Linked DNA regions of Homo sapiens: region 2 is linked to region 1. Evidence: fine-mapped expression QTL. Tissue or cell type: skeletal muscle. Region 1 holds a variant in brackets; the other region holds the start of a gene. All regions are shown on one strand. Distances are between the middles of the regions.

The links. PIP is the estimated chance that this variant, and not a neighbour inherited with it, causes the effect.
Region 2: it holds the start of SLC9D1, and the variant in region 1 is fine-mapped to the expression of SLC9D1 in skeletal muscle (FUSION, PIP 0.95).

What each region holds. Positions count from the first base shown.
Region 1 is chr13:113,516,098-113,518,851 of GRCh38, forward strand. The region is part of intron 7 of SLC9D1 (solute carrier family 9 member D1); the gene reads left to right. Among named protein-coding and RNA genes, the nearest start is that of SLC9D1, 26 kb to the left of the region's middle. The variant C/T (reference allele first, on the strand shown) is at 1,377.
Region 2 is chr13:113,489,438-113,492,191 of GRCh38, forward strand. SLC9D1 (solute carrier family 9 member D1) reads left to right here and starts at 1,584. Exons shown (of 13, transcript NM_017905.6): 1 at 1,584-1,836. DCUN1D2 (defective in cullin neddylation 1 domain containing 2) reads right to left here and starts at 1,274. Exons shown (of 7, transcript NM_001014283.2): 1 at 1,230-1,274. The coding sequence starts at 1,232. RefSeq lists an enhancer at 445-744 and a silencer at 975-1,894.

The sequences.
Region 1 (2,754 bases):
ACATTGAAAGGTATGGTTAAGAGGATGACTGGGGTTTCCCTTAGGAGGGTAGAGTGGAGGTTAGTGTATGAAACAAGGTTAGTCTGCCTGATCATGGAAACTGGATTATTTGTTCCTTGAGATGCACTGTATTTTTCTTTCTACTTTTGCATATGCTTGAAATTTTATTAGAAATTCCTATATATGTCCAGGCATGGTGGCTCATGCCTGTAATCCCAGCACTTTGGGAGGCCAAGGCAGGTGGATCACATCAGGTCAGGAGTTCAAGACCGTCCTGGCCAACATGGCAAAACCTCATCTCTACTGAAAATATAAAAATTAGCCGGGCATGGTGGCACACGCCTGTAATCCCCAGCTACTCGGGAGGCTGAGGCACAAGAATTGCTTGAACCCTGGAGGCGGAGCTTCCAGTGAGCTGAGTTCACACCACTGCACTCCAGCCTGGGCCACAGAGTGAGACTCCATCTCAAAAAAAAAAAAAAGAAAAGAAAAGAAAAGAAATTTGTATATAGCCCAAACTTAAGACTGTCTCACCAGAGCTTAAAGGTGTTAGCTCTGGCCACAGCAGCGGCCTCAGTCACTCTTCTTACATGGATTTTGATGCAAATTCTGCTCCTTTTCTATTTCTCAAGATTTCTAGCCCCTTCGAGGGGCCCAACCCTCGAAGGAGTCCAGTAAATGTGTAACTCCACTCTGCCTTGCCTGTGCTGAAAACACATAGAAAGAGGAACAGAGGAGGCAGGCACCTGGAGGTCAGAATGGCAGCTGGATTGTGAAGAAGGTGTGGTTTGCATGCCTGGCAGTGATGAGCTTCTTAGGCTTCATTCTTAACCTCGGAGCAAGACTCATTGTCCAGCCACAAGCAGCGTTGGCCTCCAGAGGCCTCCGTGGGCAGGGCCTGCCCTGTGAAACTCAGGTCTGCAAGAGAACCTTGAGACCAGGTGCCGTGGGCTGGCTGGTTCACAAAGGAAGACGGGCTCTATCCATTTCCAGGAAGAGCGCCCTTGTCTCCCTGGGAGTAATGTATGTGGGACCAGGCAAGAGGCCAGGAGTGGTGAGGAAACATTCCCTTCTTGTGAAAATGCAAGCGAGGGGAAAGGAGGTTTCCCCCACAATGTGCTAGAATATTCATGCAGCCTTTGTTGTTGTTGTTGAGGAGGAGTCTCGCTCTGTCGCCCAGGCTGGAGTGCAACGGCACAATTTCAGCTCACTGCAAGTTCCACCTCCCGGGTTCACGCCATTCTCCTGCCTCAGCCTCCCGAGTAGCTGGGACTACAGGCGCCCGCCACCACGCCCGGCTAATTCTATTTTTAGTAGAGACGGGGTTTCACCGTGTTAGCCAGGATGGTCTCGATCTCCTGACCTCGTGATCCGCC[C/T]GCCTTGGCCTCCCAAAGTGCTGGGATTACATGCAGCCATTTTTGTATTAGTGAATAAATGGAATTCCTGAACGTCCACCAAGAGATGAATGGATAAACTGTGGTCTGTTCTACAACAGTTTTAAAAATGAATCAGAGCTTTGTGCATCAACATGGATAATTTGCAGATATAGTGGTGGTCAAAAACGGCAAGTCGCAGAAATGTTGATTCTGTGAAGTTTAATATTACAAAATAATAAACTCAGTGTTGCCTCCAGATCTATAGGTGTTAACATTAAGTAGAAATGCATTCAAGGGGATGATGAACTTTCAGAATAAGGTCAAGTGGGGACTGTGGGTGGAGGGAAGAGGGGCCCCACAGCACGGGGTTTACAGACCTCCTTGTGGGGAGTGTGGGTGGAGGGAAGAGGGGCCCCACAGCAAGGGGTTTACAGAGCTCCTTGGCGGCACCCTTAGGACTTTATTTCTTTAAAAATCTGAAGCAAATATGTTACAGGTTTAAAATTTAGCAAATTCCTTAGTGGGTATGTGAGCATTTGATATACTCCTTGTTCTCTGTATATTTAAACTGTTTAATAAAAGGAATGGAAAACAGGAAGAAATCAAAATGCTTATAGTAGTGATAAGCACAAAAAGGTAGTGCAGATTTCAGAAAGATGACAATAGTGAAAGTGTTGAGAAATTAGAGAAATTGTAATATTTCAGTGTGGTAATATTTTCATCTTGTCTGGTTGCACTGCTGAAGTTTTGTGCCCGTCACTACTCCGAGCACTTGTCTTCCTCCTGCAGCCCCGTGAAGTCCCTCGTGAGCAGTGTTTCCTGCGCAGGCCCTGTGGGTGTGGACTCGGGGTCCTGCATCAGGGACCTTGGTGAAGACCTGGTCTCTGCTCTGTGGTGCCCATGGCCTAGCGGGCAACAGTTGAGTGTCTGTTGATTTCAGCCAGTTCACTATGATCGGTGCAAAGGAAGAGAACAAAATATTTAAAACATTTACAAAATGCTGGCAGTAATATCATCAAAGGCTATCTCTAAAAAGTGAGATGTAGTGAGAGATTTTGTTTCTTTTAAATAGAAGGGGCGCAGGTGTGAACGTGTTATCTGCGGAAGATGTGGGGTGGCCGTGGCTCCTTTGCATCCCACAGACTCATCTCGCAGCCTCCCTCCCGTCTTGCGAAGGCTGCGAGATGAAGAGAGATGCGGTGACCACAAGCCCATGCGAGCCTTAGGGTGAAAATCGCTGATCTGTGAAGCCTCCGCATGGACAATATTAGTTGGGAGGCAATTTTATCATCTCCTGAATCGTGTAACCCTAAAAGGCACAAAGCTGTAGCCACAACAGCTTAACGTCATCGTCTGTTCAGACTGTTTTAAAATTCTA
Region 2 (2,754 bases), 27 kb before region 1:
TCTTTTCAGCTGCTCTTTTGTTCAGCACTGCTGATGGCTCCCTCCTCCTTTAAACTCCATCCTCTTGGTTTCGACACATTCTAGTGTCCTGGTTTCTCCTACCAGCCCCCTCTCAGTCTCCTTTGTGGCTCTTCTCCCATCCTGAAGCTTGTCCTCACCCTCCACTCCCCTCTACACGTTACCGTGTCCCTTCTCCGGTGGCTCTCTGTGCCTTAGCCAGGACAATCTTTCAGCTCCTATACGTCATCATCGCCTACCACTAAGGGTCTGTGCATTCTGTTTCTTCTGCCTGGAGCCGCACACGGCTGGCTGCCCCGGAACCTCACTTTTTCTCTGGCTAATTTCCAGAGAAATTCTCCACAGTTCAACTCACACCCTCAGCATCTGACACCACTCCCACAGCCGCATCCTACAAGTTCCTGGAACCCGTGCCTTAGCCTTTGTCCCAACTGTGGTCAAACAATTGTGCATCTGGTGCCTGTCTCCCCTGCTGGGGCATCAACTCCCTCAACGCCAAGATCATGCCTGGCCCAGCACCAGTCACACCCAGCAGCACCTTGCTGGCCTCTGAACCGATGTGGACTGAATAAATCCCATCCATCACCATTTCCACCACATTTCAAAGTAACTGATGTGCACCTCCAGCAGCCTCCCTCCTGCGCTGCGGAACTCTACCAGCTCCACAGATGCACACCTACAGCCACGCTACAGCTCCCGGCTAGAGCCCGCGCTAGGGCCCCGCTGTGCCTCTCCCTCCCCTCCCGGCAGCAGGGCCTCCCCCGCGAATCTGAGCTTCTCGCGGATTCCTTCCTTGCGCTGTTTTGGTCAACAGCCTCAGCATCTGCACAGACGCCCGCAGGAGCAGCCGAGCCCTCGCCCGCCTCGACTGCCCGTTTCGAAGCCGCCCTGGGAAGCCCCCGGCCTGGGTTCCCGCTCGGCCCCGGCCCCTGCCCCAAGGCCCCTACAGTTCCTCCCGGCCCCCGCCCTCCGCTCACTCCCGGTCGTCCCTCGCGGCTCCGGGTCAAACCCGCGCTCCCCGCGGTCCCGCGCCTCCGACGCCACCGCTCCGGCTCGCGGGCCCGCGGCGCGTTCCTCCCTCGGATCCACGCGGAACGCCCCGCGCAGCTCGCTGGGCTCGGCCTCCCACATCCAGCGCGCCGCCTGCGCCGACCTTGGGGCCCGACCCCGACCCCGACCCCGACGGGCAGAGGCGACGCCGGGCCACCTACCATCTCCCCCGCGCCGCCCGCTTCTGGCCGGCCCCGGCCTTCTGCGCAGGCGCGGCGGCGGCTCCGCCCTCGTCCTCGGACGGCCGCGGCCCTCGGCTCCGGGGCAGTGCCGGGAGCCGGCCGCGGGGACTCCCACTCCCGGCATGCTCAGCGCCGCCCGGGGGCCCACGGGAGCTCGCGCCCCACAGCCCCTGCGCGTCCAGCCCTCTGCGAGGGCCTTGGCTCGCCCCTGCGGGGTCCAACGCCAGCCTGCGGCTGCCAGGCCCCACGCCGGCCAGGAAGTGCTCGCCGCCCGCGGCCGACGGGACCCGCCCACGCCCCGCCTCTTAAAGGGGGCAGTGACTGCGGCTGGGCGGGAGTCCGGGTCGGCTTGGCTGAGCGGGGGCGGTGCTGGGCAGGGCGGCGGCCGCTCCCTCCCGGACTCCCGGCCTCCCGGCCTCCCTGGTCCCGCCTGGGAAGGGATGCAAGGAAGCCCTCCGGCGCTGCGCTCCGAGGCGGGAGACAGCGTCCCCCTCCGCCCCTCGGGTCCTGGCGCCTCAGAGCCCGGCCCAGGCCGCGGAACGGTGATGCTCGGGCCGGACGGGCGGGCGCGGATCCCTGCGTCCCGGTGAGCACCAGGCCCGTCCATCCGGGGCTCTTTCCCGGGGTCCCCTTCCTTCCCTCCCTCCCTGGGGCTCCCCTCCCCTCTCTCCCTCCCCGGGGCTCACCTTCCCTTCTTCCCTTCCCAAGGGTCCCCTTCCTTCCTTCCCTCCCTCCCTGGGGCTCCCCTCTCTCCCTCCCCGGGGCTCCCATTCCCTTCTTCCCTTCCCAGGGGTCCCCTTCCTTCCTTCCCTCCCTCCCTGGGGCTCCCCTCCTCTCTCTCCCTCCCTGGGGCTCACCTCCCCTCTCTCTCTCCTCGGGGCTCCCCTTTTCTTGCAGGTATTGTCTCCCGGGGTCGGGTGGTCTGTGTGGCCTGGGGTCCCGCTCCTCCAGGCCTTGCCTAGGCGCTCTTCGCTGAGGCCCACGTTCTAACCTGGAATGGAACCTGCGTTCCCACCCTGGCCGCCCGGGTGGACTCGGGGCCTCCAGGGCCGGCCGCAGAGATGCAGCCCTGTCCCTGGCCCCCCTCCTGTGACTCCTAACGGCTCCTCACGGTGTCCATGACCCAGGGTGTGGACGCCTGCGCGGGGGAAGCAAGACCGCTGCGTATCGGGTCCCTATTCACTGCCTGTTTTTCTGATTATTCTGTCTTCCAAATTTATCTTATTTACCGGCTTTTTCAAAAGGAGTGTCTTAATGATTGGATTACTTGTGAAATATTTGTAGTTTTTTTCTCCTACAGGCTTGACTTAAATATTCTAAAGCTTTTTTGTGGTTGTTGAGACAGAGTTTTGCTGTCGCCCAGGCTGGAGTGCAGTGGCTGGTCAAGGCTCAAGCGATTCTCCCGCCTCAGCCTCCCCAGGAGCTGGGGCCACAGGGAGCATCACGCCCGGCTAATTATTTCATTTTTAATAGAGACAGGGTCTTGCTGTGTTGCCCAGGATGA